Linked DNA regions of Homo sapiens. The protein of the gene in region 2 binds, or shares a complex with, the protein of the main gene of each other region. Each region holds a gene or a part of one and is shown on either strand. Other genes may lie near its edges. The genes, in order: LIN9 and RBL1.

The links.
Region 1: RBL1 (region 2) and LIN9 share a complex: the UniProt entries of both Homo sapiens proteins name them as parts of the DREAM complex.

What each region holds. Positions count from the first base shown.
Region 1 is NC_000001.11:226,263,931-226,267,755, forward strand, and holds part of LIN9 (protein lin-9 homolog), read right to left. Parts: intron 2,403-3,825; coding exon 2,283-2,402; intron 1,705-2,282; coding exon 1,603-1,704; intron 1-1,602. UniProt on the Homo sapiens protein: Acts as a tumor suppressor. Inhibits DNA synthesis. Its ability to inhibit oncogenic transformation is mediated through its association with RB1. Plays a role in the expression of genes required for the G1/S transition.
Region 2 is NC_000020.11:37,064,675-37,068,499, forward strand, and holds part of RBL1 (retinoblastoma-like protein 1), read right to left. Parts: intron 3,513-3,825; coding exon 3,312-3,512; intron 2,624-3,311; coding exon 2,559-2,623; intron 2,448-2,558; coding exon 2,319-2,447; intron 2,211-2,318; coding exon 2,050-2,210; intron 800-2,049; coding exon 750-799; intron 1-749. UniProt on the Homo sapiens protein: Key regulator of entry into cell division. Directly involved in heterochromatin formation by maintaining overall chromatin structure and, in particular, that of constitutive heterochromatin by stabilizing histone methylation.

The DNA.
Region 1 (3,825 bases), on a different chromosome or scaffold from region 2:
GCTGGGAGTGGTGGTACATGCCTGCAGTCTCAGCTACTTGGGAGGCTGAGGTGGGAGGACTGCCTGAGACTGGAGGTTAAGGCTGCAGTGAGCCATAATGGCACCCCTGTACTCCAGCCTGGACAACAGAGCAAGACTTTGTCTCAAACAAACAAATAAATAAATAAATAGGCCAGGTGCAGTCGCTCATGCCTGCAATTCCAGCACTTTGGGAGGCCGAGGGCGATCATGTGAGGTCAGGAGTTTGAGACCAGCCTGGCCAACATGGTGAAACCCCGTCTCTACTAAAAATACAAAAAATTAGCTGGGTGTGGTGGCGTGCGCCTGTAATCCCAGCAACTTGGGAGGCTGAGGTGATTCCACTGGAACCCGGGAGGTAGAGGCTACAGTGAGCTGAGATCGTGCCACTGCACTCCAGCCTGGGAGACAGAGTGAGACTCTGTCTCAAATAAAATAAATAAACAAATAAATAAATAAATATTAAATAAAAAAATGTGATTGAGGAACACAGAATGCTATATACAGACACACAACTGACAAGACCTTTCCTCAAAATAACATCAACTGCAAAAGAACACTGTGAATATTTTCATGGATTATGTTATAAACATTTTTATTTATAAAGATCATATCAGCCAGGTGCAGTAGCTCACACCTCTAATCCCAGCACTTTGGGAGGCCAAGGTGGGGGGATCACTTGAAGTTAGGAACTGGAGACCAGCCTGGCCAGCACAGTGAAACCCCATCTCTATTAAAATTACAAAAAAAATTAGCCGGGCATAGTGGTGCATGCCTGTAATCCCAGCTACTCAGGAGGCTGAAGCAGGAGAAAAGCTTGAATCCAGGAGGTAGAGGTTGCAGTGAGCCCAGACTGACCCACTGCACTCCAGCCTGGGCAACAGAGCAAGACTCAGTCTCAAAATGAATAAATAAATAAACAAATGAAAATAAAGATCATTTCTATCCCAAGCCAAAGTAGTTTTCATTTTCCAAAAAGGAAATGAAACATTATTAGACTATGATTCAAACTAAAAAATTTATTTAATCTAATTTTCAAACTCACTACATTTTTAAGAGTCCAGCTATAAGGAAATTTTCCAATATAATACTTCTACACTTAGTTCAGTTTAGGCTTAGATTTCTTAGTGTCTAATCACTAAGTACTTAGCAGGTGAATACCTGTTTCTAGTCTCTGAAAAGAAATAAAATTTCTTCTAACCATATAAGCTAGCCAGGACATCATAACTGTTGAACTGACTGATGATGGCAGAATATGCTGAGGTTACTAAATAAAAGCCTTCATAGTTACCCAAGTTATTAACAGCCAAACATTCAGAATTTCACAGAACATATGCAAGAATGTTTGAGCCCTTAAAATAGCAGAATAATAAGAACTCAGACACAAGACAAAGCTCAAGAAGAAAGATCTTTAAGTCTTTTTTGGTTTTTATAACTTTTATTTTCAGGCTTTGTTGGAAATAGCAGCTCTTAAAACCTACACGGTGATAAACCTACACGGCCCTAGAAAAATTTTCAACTTTAATAACATAAAAGGCATTGAGTTTTTAAACAAACAGCCAAGATATTCAGAACAATTCTTACCACTTGGATAAGAAATTCTACTGGAAAACCACCTAATGTTTCAGTGTCAGAGCCAGAAATTTTACTTCTCCACGGCGACTGTCCTAATAAAGGATCATTATCCTATGGGAATAAAAAGGAATTATTTAATCATTGACTATTCAGAGGAAGTATCTTATTTTTTTATTTTTATTTTTTTTTAGACGGAGTCTCGCTCTGTTGCCACTTGTGATCTCGGCTCACTGCAATCTCTGACTCCTGGGTTCAAGCGATTCTCCTGCCTCAGCCTCCCGAGCAGCTGGGATTACAGGCGCGCGCCACCACGCCCAGCTAATTTTTGTATTTTTAGCAGAGACGGCGTTTCACCATGTTGATCAGGTTGGTCTCGAACTCCTGACCTCGTGATCCGCCTGCCTCAGCCTCCCAAAGTGCTGGGATTACAGGCGTGAGCCACTGCGCCCGGCCAGGAAGTATCTTATTTTTAGAAAAAGAGAAAATTCTGTTATAATTAATATTATATTAAAATCCAATAAAAAGGAAATTATTTCTGGAGATGAAGCAACTATTTATTTTATTTAATATTTTCAATTCAAAATAGTGTGCATACTTTGAAGTTGCTGTAATAGATGTGTATTTCTTAAGAACATAGTTCACCTTCATAAAAATCAATTAAATTATTGATATTTCTAAAATATACTTACTATAATTGGTGACTGGAGAGGAGGAGTATAATGTAACCGTGGTGGGGTCATAAAAAATCGAGAAGGCCGCTGTTTTTGTCCAAAGGCAGCAATTGGCATTGTCTCATGAGGTTCATTACTCTGAGAAAACAGAATAATTCACAAAACTTAAAGAAATTTACCAATCATTTAAGCTTTATAATCATTGTATTTCAGCTTGAGATATATATTCACGCATATTCTATGATTCATATAGAATTTATTACTTATATATTTAATTATTTATAGAGTAGCATATTAGTCTATACAGATCAAAGGCTAGAACTTGAAACAGAGTATGAAAACACTACTTTGCTGCCAAAAGGATGAACCTCCAGAAGAAAAAAAGAAATAAAAAAAAAGGGGGGGGGTCAAAATAGTTCAGAGAATCAAAGATTAATATTAAAGTTTTCTATGGCCACATTTGGTTATCTGCATTTAGACTGTCTGAATATACCCTACAATTAAAAATCAACTCTTATTTAGCCAGGGAGAAATATTTGGGTGATCTCATAAAAACAGTTAAATTAATGAAACAGAGAAGCAATTTACTTTTTTTTTTTTTTGAGACCGAGTTTTACTCTTGTTGACCAAACTGGAGTGCAATGGCGCGATCTCGGATCACTGCAGCCTCCACCTCCTGGGTTCAAGCAATTCTCCTGCCTCAGCCTCCCAAGTAGCTGGGATTACAGACATGTGCTACCCCACCCAGCTAATTTTTGTATTTTTAGTAGAGATGGGGTTTCACCATGTTGGCCAGGCTGGTCTTGAACTCCTGACATCAGGTGATCCGCCCATCTCAGCCTCCCAAAGTGCTGGGATTATAGGTGTGAGCAACCGCGCCTGGCCAATTTACTTTTTTTGAAAGGAGAGTTTAAAGCTTTCATCCTTTAATGTAAAAACTTAAGAGCAGTGTACTCTGTTCTACATTTAGTTCTAATTTTCTTTCTCTCCTATTGCGGAGAGATATCAAGCAATATTGTATTTCTGCACTAAGGAGATATATATATATATATATATATATTTCTTTTAGGAAATATATTTACAAAGACATACATATATATGTGTGTGTATATATATTATGTATATATGTATGTATGTATGTATGTATGTATATTCTAGGCAGAGGTTGCAGTGAGCCGAGATCACACCACTGCACTCCAGCCTGGGCGACAGAGCAAGACTCCGTCTCAAAAAAAAAAAAAAAAAAAGATCTCAATTCTAGTCTCAGCCTAATAGGAAACCAGATCTAGAGCCTTGAATAAATTACGCAATTGTACTTATGTCTGAGTTTCATCATGCAAAAGTGAAGGTAATTAACACCCACCTTGCATGCCTCTGAAGATAAAACAGGAGAACAAATAAGTACAAGATGTTACTATACTTTAAAAACAATTTTGCAAGAGGACTATACTTTAACCTAACAGCTGCAATGAAAATGTTATGTAGCTTCTTCTCCAAGGTTATTTAGTCAGGACTCATCAGTTTGGTTATACTAAAGTGCTGTGTCGTTAAGGTCCAACAG
Region 2 (3,825 bases):
TCTCAGCTCACTGCAGCCTCTGCCTCCTGGGTTCAAGTGATTCTCCTGCCTCAGTCTCCCAAGCAGCTGGGATTACAGGTGTGCACCACCACACCCAGATAATTTTTGAATTTTTAGTAGAGATGCGGTTTCACCATGTTGGCCAGGCTGATCTCTGGCCAGGCTGATCTCAAACTCCTGACCTCAAGTGATCGGCCCGCCTTGGCCTCCCAAAGTGTTGGGATTACAGGCGTGAGCCACCATGCCCGGCCTCTTTCTTTTTTTTTTTTTTTTTGGAAATAGGGTCTCACTCTGTCACCTAGACTGAAGTGCAGTGGTGCAATCACGGCTCACTGCAACCACAACCTCCCAGATTCAAACGATCCTCCAACCTCAACCTCCCAAGTAGCTGGGACCACAGGCTCACACCACTACGTCTGGCTGATTTTTGTATTTTTTGTAGAGACAGGGTTTCACCATGTTGCCCAGGCTGGTCTCCAACCTTCTGAGCTCAAGCAATCTGCCTGCCTTGGCCTTCCAAAGTGATGGGTTTACAGGTGTGGGCCACCGTGCCTGGCCTTGATTTCTTAAAATAAATGTATTTAAAGCCAACAAGTCTTAGTGATAATAAACATTCAATGCCACTAAAGCAGAGAGAACTTGAATTTGGAGGTCTTACTTTGATATACTGTTATGCTTAACAAATTTCAACAAATCAACAAATATGACAGCTTGTGATAAGCCAGGCACCATTAGTACTAGATATTTACCTATTATCAGTAAAACTTGAAAGGTCCAGGAGGCATTCTCCTTTTAATATCTGTGAACAAAAAATTATTTTGGGACACCATATAATTAAGCATATTAATACACACACAAACGTGAAATTTATCTAAATTTCCATATTGTTATAACACACACACAAAACAGAATTATTAAATATTTCTTTCAGACTAGGATAAACTATTTAGCATGCAAATAACTTTTTTTTTTAACTTTTTTTTTTTTTTGAGACAGGGTTTTGTTCTGTCACCAGGGCTGCAGTGCAGTGGTACAATCATGGCTCACTGCAGCCTCAGCGTGCCAAGTAGCTGGGACTACAGTTGTGCACCACCATGCCCAACTAATTTTTGTATTGTTTGTAGAGACAAGGTTTTGCCATGTTGCTCAGGTTCGTCTGGAACTCTTGGGCTCAAGCAATCCACCTGCCTTGGCCTCCCAAAGTGTTGGGATTACAGGCGTGAGCCACCGCGCCCAGTCCCTGGGATCCTTTAAAAAAAGTTTACTTTGCTAGAGATGTTTAGCATACAGACAATGGGCCATAATATAGATATCTGAGGAACACAAGACTGAATACAAAAATTTGTATAAAAGAAGAAGAAACCAGTAAGGGAAGAATTTATGCTTAAAGAAAAATCTCATAATATTTGAAAAGTGGGATCCATAATCCAAACCCCTCCTTTTACCAAAGAGAAATCTTGAGGCTTAACTACATTTAATGGCTCGACGTTGGGGAAATAAGAAATTGAAACCCAAAGGAACAAGCCAATTCATAAATGTAGAAATAGCTAAGTTAATTACCAAGGAGACAATGTCCAGAATGCACACAGATAGCCTACAAGTGGCTACAAAACTATCATGGATTTTCTGCTCGATTTACATGGAATTAAAACTGTGGTTGTTATACATCATCCTACTTTTAGTCAACAGTCAGCAGTTATTCAAATTGTGGCAGTAAATTAGTCAGCTTATTCTGACCTCCTGTTTTTCCTAATTATTTGTCAGCCCTACTCTGATGTTCTATTCTTTACAATTCTTTATCAGTACCTCCTACGGTTGCCTCTGACAGTACATTTACCCAACAGTACATATAGTTGGTCACATTTTTCAACAGCTCTGTTTCTCACATCACACAAGATCATAAGGAAATTCTGAATCACAGTAGAGGCTAAAGCCTGGGAATCCTGACCCTAAGTTCTATAATGCTGAGAACTTGCTTAAAACATTTTTTTCTTTTCACATTACTGGTGATCTGTAAACATCTCAGTCATCTAATTATAAGTACAGTACCTTCCTGTCAAAGAGTTTTGAAATATATGGCTTAAAGTAGTGCTCCTTTATTCCTTTTGCTTCTACGAGAAGTCCATCATGCAGTTCACACAGTACAGCAATGATGCAGGGTGGCTCTTCAGAAGCCGTAAAGTCAGCAGTATGAAAATCAGATGGTAAACCTAGTTTGACAGTGTAGGAAGGGCAGAGGGAAAAAAAAATAGTCAACTTTTAAAAATCTTTTTCCAAAAACTGATAATCAGTTTTCAAAAATAAATAAAAGGTCTTACCTTTAAATGATGGATTTAGCAAGTCTTGTCTATTTGGGCACATAATCGCATTGGCAAAAATCAGATCCAAGCAGCATAGAAGTAAATGATAAGAGTTTACTAAGTCATCCCCAATCATCCGAAAATTACCTTTATAAGGGAAAAAAAAAAAAAAAAGACACAAAAACCAGAAACCTCTCATGTCAAATAGCACCAAGTTCCCAGAGTAGAAATGTAAGACCACTGAAAGTGTCATCTTACCCTTAGTATAAACAAAAAGTGTCCAACAGAAATTAAACAGATCCTTAACACTGCAAGGAATCCTCCTAAAAAGGGAAAAAAATTACTTTTTGTCTGACTAGCTCGCTAAATATCATGTAAACTGAAATAGTAAATGTAAATATCAAATAGATCAAATTACACATGAAATTCCATTCATGAAGAAAAGTAATCTATTATTTATGAAATGGACTTAAGTAAGCCTTTCCAACCTGCATAAAATAATCAGAACATAGGGCTGGGTGTGGTGGCTCATGCCTGTAATCCCAGCACTCTGGGAGGCCGAGGTGGGTAGATCACCTGAGGTTAGGAGTTCGAGACCACCTTGGCCAACACGGTGAGACCTGGTCTCTACTAAAAATACAAAAAATGAGCCAGACGGGGTGGTGCACACCTGTGATCCCAGCTACTCAGGAGGCTAAGGTAGGAGAATTGCTTGAACCTGGGAGACAGAGGTTGCAGTGAGCCGAGATCAGGACACTGCACTCCAGCCTGGGCAACAGAATGAGACTCCTCAAAAAAAAAAAAAAAAAAAAAAAAACAACAACAGAAAGAAAAATAAGTAAAAGTATTATCCTGAATTTCCAAATATGGATAATTGTACATGGATTTAAAAAGAAAATAATTAAGTTCTTTGCAGGAATACTTTTCATAAAAAACAGACTTTCAAAAAAGTATATTCTCTTAGTTTGTATCATAATCTTTATGTCAATTATATAAGGATTAAGGGCTCACCTCTGCTTCCGGCTTCGTGGTAACTTTGGTGGTTCTTCATATGGATTTTGAAATATATCTAAAAAAATTGGCTCATATTTTTTGAATATTACAGTAGACACCTCAAAATTTCTCTCTAGCCTTTCTATACGTTCACGAAATTCTTGTGGTAGATTTGACATGTCCATCCATTTCTTCATTTTACTAAAAAATTGTATTAAACTAAAAAAAAAAAGGAGGAGAAAAAAGGCACCTTTAAAATTCATTTAAATAATGGATTGAAAGGAAATATTCTATTCATGACTAAGACTCTTTATTAAAAAGCCAGATTTCCCAGGCAACATAGTTAAGACCCCATCTCTACAAAAATTTAAAAAATTAGCTGGGTGTGGTGGCATGTGCCTGTAGCCCCAGGTACTTGGGAGGCTGAGGTGGGAGAATTGCTTGAGCCCAGGATGTCGAGACTGCAGTTAGCCTCAATCATGTACTCCAGCCCGGGTGACAAAGCAAGACACTGTCTTACATGAACAAAGAA